3 separate regions of the Homo sapiens genome follow, and regions 2 and 3 are each linked to region 1. The links come from fine-mapping of genetic effects on gene expression. A gene starts in region 1. Each other region holds a variant in brackets. All regions are shown on one strand. Distances are from middle to middle.

Region 1 (2,842 bases):
GGGGCACCCCTCAGTCTATCCTTCTGGCTATCTAGGGGTACAGGTCCTGTTTTTTTTTCTTCTTTTTTTCATTCTTTCTTTTTATTAAGAGATAAGGTCTCACTCTGTAGCCCAGGCTGTAGCACAGTGGCACTATCATATTTCATGCAGCCTCAACCTCTCAGTCTTAAGTGATCCTCCTGCCTCAGCCTCTTGAGTAGCTGGGACCATAGGTGTGCACCACCACGCCCAGCTTTTTTTTTTTTTTTTTTTTTTTTTTGAGACGGAGTTAGCTCTGTTGCCCAGGCTGGAGAACGGTGGTGCGACCTCGGCTCACGGCAACCTCCACCTCCCGGGTTCAAGCGATTCTCCTGCCCCAGCCTCCTGAGTAGCTGGAACTACAGGCACCTACCACCACGCCCGGCCAAATTTTCTATTTTTAGTAGAGACGGGTTTTCACCATGTTGGCCAGGCTGGTCTCGAACTCCTGACCTCAGGTGATCCGCCCGCCTCGGCCTCCCAAAGTGCTGGGATTACAGACGTCAGCCACCGCGCCCGGCCTATTTTTCTTTATTTTTTGTAAAGATGGGATCTCACTACGTTGCCCAGGCTGATCTTGAACTCCTGGGCTCAAGCGACCCTCCCATCTCGGCCTCCCAAAGTGCTGGGATTTCAGGAGTGAGCCACCGCACCCAGCCTAATTCCTATTTCTGAGCCCCTCCATCCAACACCATATCTGGGTCCTGCAGCCCAACCTGGGCGCACAGCAGCTCAGGCCTCAGCCTCAGACCCCCAGTGGAGTGGGGACACGGGGTGCGGTGGCGGTGCCCCCAGCCCGCGCTTACCTAGGCGGAGGGTGATGTTGACCGAGGTGGGGTACTGCACGCCGAAGGCCATGGACGGGCTCTGCCACCAGGTGCTCTCGTCCTGGCTGTGGAAGTCGGTGAGGTAGGAGGCGTTGTGGTGGCGCTGGGGGTCGGCGGCGTCGCAGCGCTGGCAATGAGCCCCCGCGCCCGCGGCGCCCACGTGGGGACAGAAGTCCTCGGGCGGGCTGCCGCACGTGTGCGAGGCCTGGGCGAGCCGCCCAAACGCCGCGTTCTCGAACACCGGCAGGCAGCGCTGCGGGCGCCCTGCGCCGTCATAGCACGCGCCCATGCCCGCGCCGGCCGCCCGCGGTGCCAGCAGCGCCAGCCCCAGCAGAAGCGCAGCCGCCGCCATGGTCAAGGGCACCGACGCCGCGCGCTCTGCCGGCCCCGCTCGGCTAGGGTGGGCGCGGACCGCGCGCTGGCCGCCAGGACCCGCCTTCCCCTGCGGGGCGGGGAGGCTGGAGGGAGGGGCGGGCGGCGGCGGCCCCACCCCACTAAAAATACCAGGGACCGCGCCGTCCCCGGGCGCCCACTCCCACCTGCTGGACGTGCCCGGCAGTGCGCGGCTCGGGAGTCTGCCCCAGAGGCGACCCGGGCCTCTTTGAGCCTCAGTTTCCTCGTCTGTGGAGTGGGGTCGGTAAAGATGCAGGCTCATTCTCGCCATTGGGAGGCTTCAATGGCTGCTCATTAAACAGAAACTGTTCAGCAGTGCCTTGGAGTCCTGAGATAAAAGGGGACAAGAGGATCTATCTCTAACTGATCGCTACCGTTTGCGCATCTCCTCCTAGCAATAAAGTGTGCCCTGGACAGGGTTGTGAGATGGCTCCGCATAGCTCCTGTCGCCCTTAACCCTGAAAAGCACTCCTGCTGCCGGCTGCGCTCTGTCCCCACAGCAAAGAGATTCTAACCTGACATTTGTGACAAGGGTACCTGGTCTTATCACAAATGTCACCTCAGAGAGGGCTTCCTTGTCTTCTGCCCCAACCCCCATAAATGCCCCCTTTACTCCCCATTTATTAACATTAGCAAATCGAGGGAGAGAAGTCATTCGATAAAATTTAGCAGCCAGGTCGTGCGCGGTGGCTCACGCCTGTAATCCTAGCACTTTGGGAGGTGGAGGCGGAAGGATAACTTGAGGCCAGGAGTTCGAGACCAACCTGGGCAAAATAGTGAGACCCTATCTCTACAAAAAAATACAAAAATTAGCCCGGCGTCATGGCACAAGCCTGTAGTCCCAGCTACCTGGGAGGCTGAGGTGGAAGGATCCCTTGAGCCCGGGAGGTTAGGCTGCAGTGGGCTGTGATCATGCCATTGCACTCCAGCCTGGCCAACAGAGTCAGACCCTGTCTCGAAAAAAAAAAAAAAAAAAAGGCAGCCATTCCCAGACGAACTCTAAGGAAAATAGAAATAAATTTCCTGGCCTGGCGCGGTGGCTCTCGCCTATAATCCCAGCATTTTGGGAAGTTGAGGAAGGCAGATCACCTGAGGTCAGGAGTTCGAGACCAGCCTGGCCAACATAGTGAAACCCCGTCTCTACTAAAAACACAAAAATTAGCTGGGTGTGGCGGTGCGTGCCTGTAATCCCAGCTACTCAGGAGGCTGAGGCAGGAGAATTGTTTGAACCCGGGGGGCAGAAGTTGCAGTGAACTGAGATCATGCCATTGCACTCCAGCCTGGGCAACAAGAGAGAAACTCCATCAAAAAAAAAAAAAAGAAAGAAAAGAAAGAAAGAAAATTTTTGGAAGCAAGATGAACTGTAGTGGGCTGATTCACTACCAGTTATTTACACATGATTAAAACAATACGGTTGTGGAAAGGACTACAGAATAGACCCATGGAATAAGTTAGAGATTTCAGAACTATATCTAAGTAGAGTTAGTATATGATATCACCACTGGTACCTAAGGTTATTTTGGAAGTTCTAGCTAATACAATAAGACAAAAAACTTAAAAGATATAAATATTTATATCTTCTACTTACCTGAACATACATCTAG
Region 2 (2,500 bases), 35 kb before region 1:
GGGCTGCAGGTTAAAGGTCCCCGGGCGACATCTGAAATGGAGGCAGGACATGCCCACGAGGGCCACGTGAATCAGCCAGGAAGGGGCGGGGCCAGGGTATCCCAGCTGGACCAATGAGAGTCTAGAATCACTGCAGAAACTTAAAAACAATTTTTTTTCAGAATTCTAGAAGAGTAGTAAGAACATTACAGATTGTTCCCATACCTGCTTCAGACAGCCTCCCCTGATGCTGACATCTGACATTACCACAGTACATTTGTCAAAACTAAGTTAACTAAACTCCAGACTTTATTAGGTTTTGTTTTTTTGTTGTTGTTGTTTTTTTTTTTTTTTGAGACAGAGTCTTGTTCTGTGGCCCAGGCTGGAGTGCAATGGTGCAATCTTGGCTCACTGCAGCCTCCGCCTCCCGGGTTCAAGTGATTCTCCTGCCTCAGCCTCCCGGGTAGCTGGGATTGCAGGCGCCTGCCACCACACCCGGCTAATTTTTGTATTTTTAGTAGAAACGGGATTTCACCATGTTGGCAGGTTGACCTCGAACTCCTGACCTCAGGGGATCCGCCCGCCTCAGCCTCCCAAAGTACTGGGATTTCAGGCTTGAGCCACCGCGCCCAGCGACTTTAATAGGATTTCTCCACTTTTTCCTCTAATGTCTGGTTTCTGCTGCAGGATCCCATCCAGGACACGGTGTTGCATTTAGTGGTATCCTTGTTCTCCTCCAACCTATCACCGCTTCTCAGTCTTTCCTTGTCTGCCACTATCTTGACACTTTTTGAAAAGCACTGATCAGGTATTTTTAGAATGTCTGATGTTTCTCATGATTAGACCAGAGTTATAGGCTTGGGAAAGAAATACACAGAGGTGAAGTACCCTTCTCGTCATATCACATGGGGGCACAGGAAACCCACATGACATCCAAGCGATGCTGACTTTCATCACCTGTGCTGTCTACCAGTCTCTCCACTGTGCAATCACCACGGTCCAGTCATTAGAAGCAAGTCACTGAATAGGCCGGACGCGGTGGCTCAAGCACTTTAAATTTTTTTTTGAGACGAAGTCTCGCTCTGTTGCCCAAGCTGGAGTGCAGTGGCACGATTTCAGCTCACTGTAACCTCTGTCTCCCGGGTTCAAACAATTGTCCTGCCTCAGCCTCCCAAGTAGCTGGGACTACAGGTGTGCGCCACCATGCCCGGCTAATTTTTGTATTTTTAGTAGAGACAGGGTTTCACTATGTTGGCCAGGCTGGTCTTGAACTCCTGACCTCGTGATCCATCCACCTCGGCCTCCCAAAGTGCTGGGATTACAGGCATGAGCCACCGCGCCTGGCCGGCTCAC[G/A]CACTTTGGGAGGCCGAGGTGGGTGGATCACCTGAGGTCAGTTCGAGATCAGCCTGACCAACATGGTGAAACCCCATCTCTACTAAAAATACAAAAATTAGCCAGGCGTGGTGGTGGGTGCCTATAATCCTAGCTACTTAGGAGGCTGAGGCAGGAGAATCGCTTGAACCCGGGAGACAGAGGTTGCAGTGAGCCGAGATCATACCACTTCACTCCAGCCTGAGCAAAAGAGCGAAACTCCGTCTCAAAAAAAAAAAAAAAAGCAGCAAGTCACTAAATGCAGCCCAGTCTCAAAAAGAGGGGGATTAAGCTCGACCTCCTAGAGGAAGAGTATCAAAGAACCCACGGACAGATGTTAAAGCCACCCCAGTAATTAATAGATATTTTGAGGTTATGCAAATATCCTCTCTTTCCTTAAAGTTCTGCCCACCAATGTCAGCATTCATCGGCAGCTCTTGCCTGTAGCAATTACCACTGTGAGGTCTGAACAGTGGTTTTCCAGTTCCTTCATTTCTACATTCATTACTTGGAATTCTTCTGCAAGGAAGGTTTGTCTCTTCATGCCCATCTATTTATGTATTCAATCATCTATTTACATCAGTATGGATTCGTGGATTTGACTTTATTCTCTGGGTTATAATCCAATACTATCGTTTATTTTGTTGCTCAAATTGTTTCAGCCCTGAGAGCTCTTTCACGTCGGCTCCTGTGTCCTTTTGACATGGGCCCACGTTCTGGTTTGGGCTGTTTTGTTTGTGTCTGTCTCTGTTTTTCAGCATTTCCTTGCTTCCTGGCACTGTAAGACGCCTTGGGCTTATCTTGTCTTTTTCCAGCCCCAGCCCCAGAATCTGCCACTTCTCCAAGCAGCTCTGGTGAATGTCAGACACAAAGCCAGGAAGAAGAGATAGTGTGTACCCAAGGAGCTAAACCCATGTTTGTCTGCTGGCCGCACTGCTGGAGCTTGGAGGCCTCTTGAACACTTGAAAGAGGAAGTTTATGTACTTCCTGGCCTTGGGAGAGCCCCTTTGACTTGCAGAGCTTCAGATGCCCCATTTGTACCATGATCAGACTGCAAAGATGGCAAACAGGCTCAAAATCCAGCTCAGTGGGTAGGGGCTTCCTGAAGCAGGGTGTTAAGAAGGATCCTGAGGTTATAGTAGGGCTCATG
Region 3 (2,500 bases), 31 kb before region 1:
CTTTACTGTTCCCATCTTGCCAAGGAAGTGACCCATCCATCACTGGTACAGTGGTCCATCTTCCCACCCACCACACATCCATCCAGGATCCTTCCATCTGTCATCCACGCACTCACTCATCATCCATGAATCTTTTTTTTTGGGACAGAGTCACACTTTGCCACCCAGGCTGGAGCGCAGTGTCATGATCTTGGCTCACTGCAACCTCTGCCTCCTGGGTTCAAGTGATTCTCCTGTCTCAGCCTCCTGAGTAGTTAGGACTACAGGCATGCATCACCATGTCCAGCTAATTTTTGTATTTTTAGTAGAGACAGGGTTTCACCATGTTGGCTAGACTGGTCTTTAACTCGTGACCTCAGGTGATCCACCTGCCTTGGCCTCCCAAAGTGCCAGGATTACATACATGAGCCACCGTGCTCGGCCTCCATGAATCTTTCTGTCTATCCCCTCACTCCTCCATCCACTTATTCATCCTTCCTTCTTTCTGTCCAGCAGCCACCTATCCACCCATTCATTCACCCATCCATGCATCTTTCCATCCCTCCCTCCATCCATCCACTCATCTAATAAGACATGGTTCCTCCCTGGTGAATCCCAGTCTGGTGTAGACAGACAGATCACGCAGACCCTGTACCGCGATACGTGTTGTGGGAGATGTACGAGAGGCTGTGCCTGCACTGTGGGGCCTCTGACTCAGCCTGGGTGTGCAGGCGAGGGGCAGGTGGGAGGGAAGGTGTCCCGAGAGCGGGGCTGCTCAGCTGAGACCTGAAGAATGAGCAGGAGGCTGTGAGCCACAGGCTGGGGAGAGGGGGCAGGGGTGGGAGGTGTGGCACCTGCAAAGGTCCAGAGGACAGAGGGACCCCAGGGAAGCAGCCAGGCCCCATCTCATGGTCAGTTTTATGCCCAGAACCACCAAATATTTTACAAGGAATCAGAGCTCTCCTAGATATCCCCAATGTGTTTCTGCTGCCTCTCAAATATACAAAGATGCCCGTTATCAACCAAAGCAAGTTCACTTAAAAGTGCTTCTGGGCCAGGCGCGGTGACTCACGTCTGTAATCAGCACTTTGGGAAGCCGAGGAGGGTGGATTACTTGAGCCCAGGAGCTTGAGACCAGCTTGGGCAACATGGCAAAACCCCATCTCTACCAAAAAATACAAAAATTAGCCGGGTGTGGTGGTGCACATTTGTAATCTCAGCTACTCAGGAGGCTGAGATGAGAGGATCACTTGAGTCTGGGAGGCGGAGGTTG[T/C]AGTGAGTAGAGATCGCGCCACTGCACTTCAGCCTGGGTGACAGAGGAGGACTCCATCTTAAAAAAAAAAATAGAGATAGTGGGCATGGTGGTGCATGCTTGTAATCCCAGCTACTCAGAAGGCTGAGGCAGAGAATTGCTGGAACCGGGGAGGTGGAGGTTGCAGTGAGCCAAGATGGCACCACTGCATTCCAGCCTGGTTGACAAAACAAGAATCTGTCTCAAAAAAAAAAAAAAAAAGCTTCTAAATTTATCATAGGTTTTTGTTTTGTTTTGTTTTTGTTTTTTGGCCATTGTATACTTTCTCAATCAAGTGATGGCAAATGTGTTGGGGTAAGGTCCAGACCCCAGGAGCCCCTGTCCCTCTCTCCCCTCAGCTGTCCCACTAGGTACCAAACTCGGTGCACCCAGATGACACTCAGCCTCTCCCACCCCGCTCCCCACACTGCGTGCCCTGCTATCCAGAGGCCCAGAGAACCCCGAAGGTCAGCCTCCACCTCTTCTTCCTCTTCCACCCCCTGGTCACCATGTCCTATTAGCTCCTCCTTGCACTGGGCTCTGGAATCTGCCCTGCTCTCCCTCTCCACAGTCAAACCCCCATGCAGGCTGCCCAGGCGTTCCTGCTGTAGCCTCCACGCAGCCTCCCCCTCACCCACTCCTGCTTCTCACTGATCCACGGCTCCTCCAGAGGCCTCCCGTGCCCCCCACCCCACCTCAAACACCTGTCCTTCCCCTCTCCCTGCACTTATGCAGCACCTCCTACAGGAAGCCTGCCCTCCACCTGCAAGATCCGCTGAGCTTCCACAGGGCTCAGCCTGGTCTCATTAAGGTCTGTTTTTGTCTCTTGGCCTCTCCAGGAGCTGAGTGTCTCTAGTCTTCACCAGGATTAGGGCGAGGTAGCTGCAGACAGGAAGGGATGGGGAGGGGAGGGACTGCTGACAGCCTGTTCCTCCTGCTTCTTGTCATTCAGTGCAATGTGTCCATACTGGGCCGCCCCTCGCCCTCACCTGCAGCCTCCCTCACTGAGCGAGTGGAACCCGGGCAGACAGCGGTCACACTTCCAGCCAGTCACCGTGGGCTTGCAGGCGCAGGTGCCTGTGTCATCGCACTGGAGGTGTAGGGAGCCTGGGAGAGGAAGGGCACAGGGCAATTGAGGCCAGGAAAGGGAGAGGGTCGGAGGCTGGGGATGTGGAGTCCACTCACCTGCCGACTGGCAGTCACAGGGCTGGCATGGCATCCGCGGGTCCC

What was found. PIP is the estimated chance that this variant, and not a neighbour inherited with it, causes the effect.
Region 2: its variant is fine-mapped to the expression of LAMC3 in whole blood (TOPMed, PIP above 0.99).
Region 3: its variant is fine-mapped to the expression of LAMC3 in whole blood (TOPMed, PIP above 0.99). The same link has a PIP of 0.9 or more in blood mononuclear cells.

Annotation. Positions count from the first base shown.
Region 1 is chr9:131,007,570-131,010,411 of GRCh38, reverse strand. It overlaps LAMC3 (laminin subunit gamma 3), which reads right to left and starts at 1,238. Exons shown (of 28, transcript NM_006059.4): 1 at 825-1,238. The coding sequence starts at 1,197.
Region 2 is chr9:131,043,055-131,045,554 of GRCh38, reverse strand. It overlaps LAMC3 (laminin subunit gamma 3), which reads right to left. Exons shown (of 28, transcript NM_006059.4): 8 at 1-31. Among named protein-coding and RNA genes, the nearest start is that of LAMC3, 35 kb to the right of the region's middle. The variant G/A (reference allele first, on the strand shown) is at 1,333.
Region 3 is chr9:131,039,008-131,041,507 of GRCh38, reverse strand. LAMC3 (laminin subunit gamma 3) reads right to left here. Exons shown (of 28, transcript NM_006059.4): 5 at 2,456-2,500; 6 at 2,260-2,377. Among named protein-coding and RNA genes, the nearest start is that of LAMC3, 31 kb to the right of the region's middle. The variant T/C (reference allele first, on the strand shown) is at 1,253.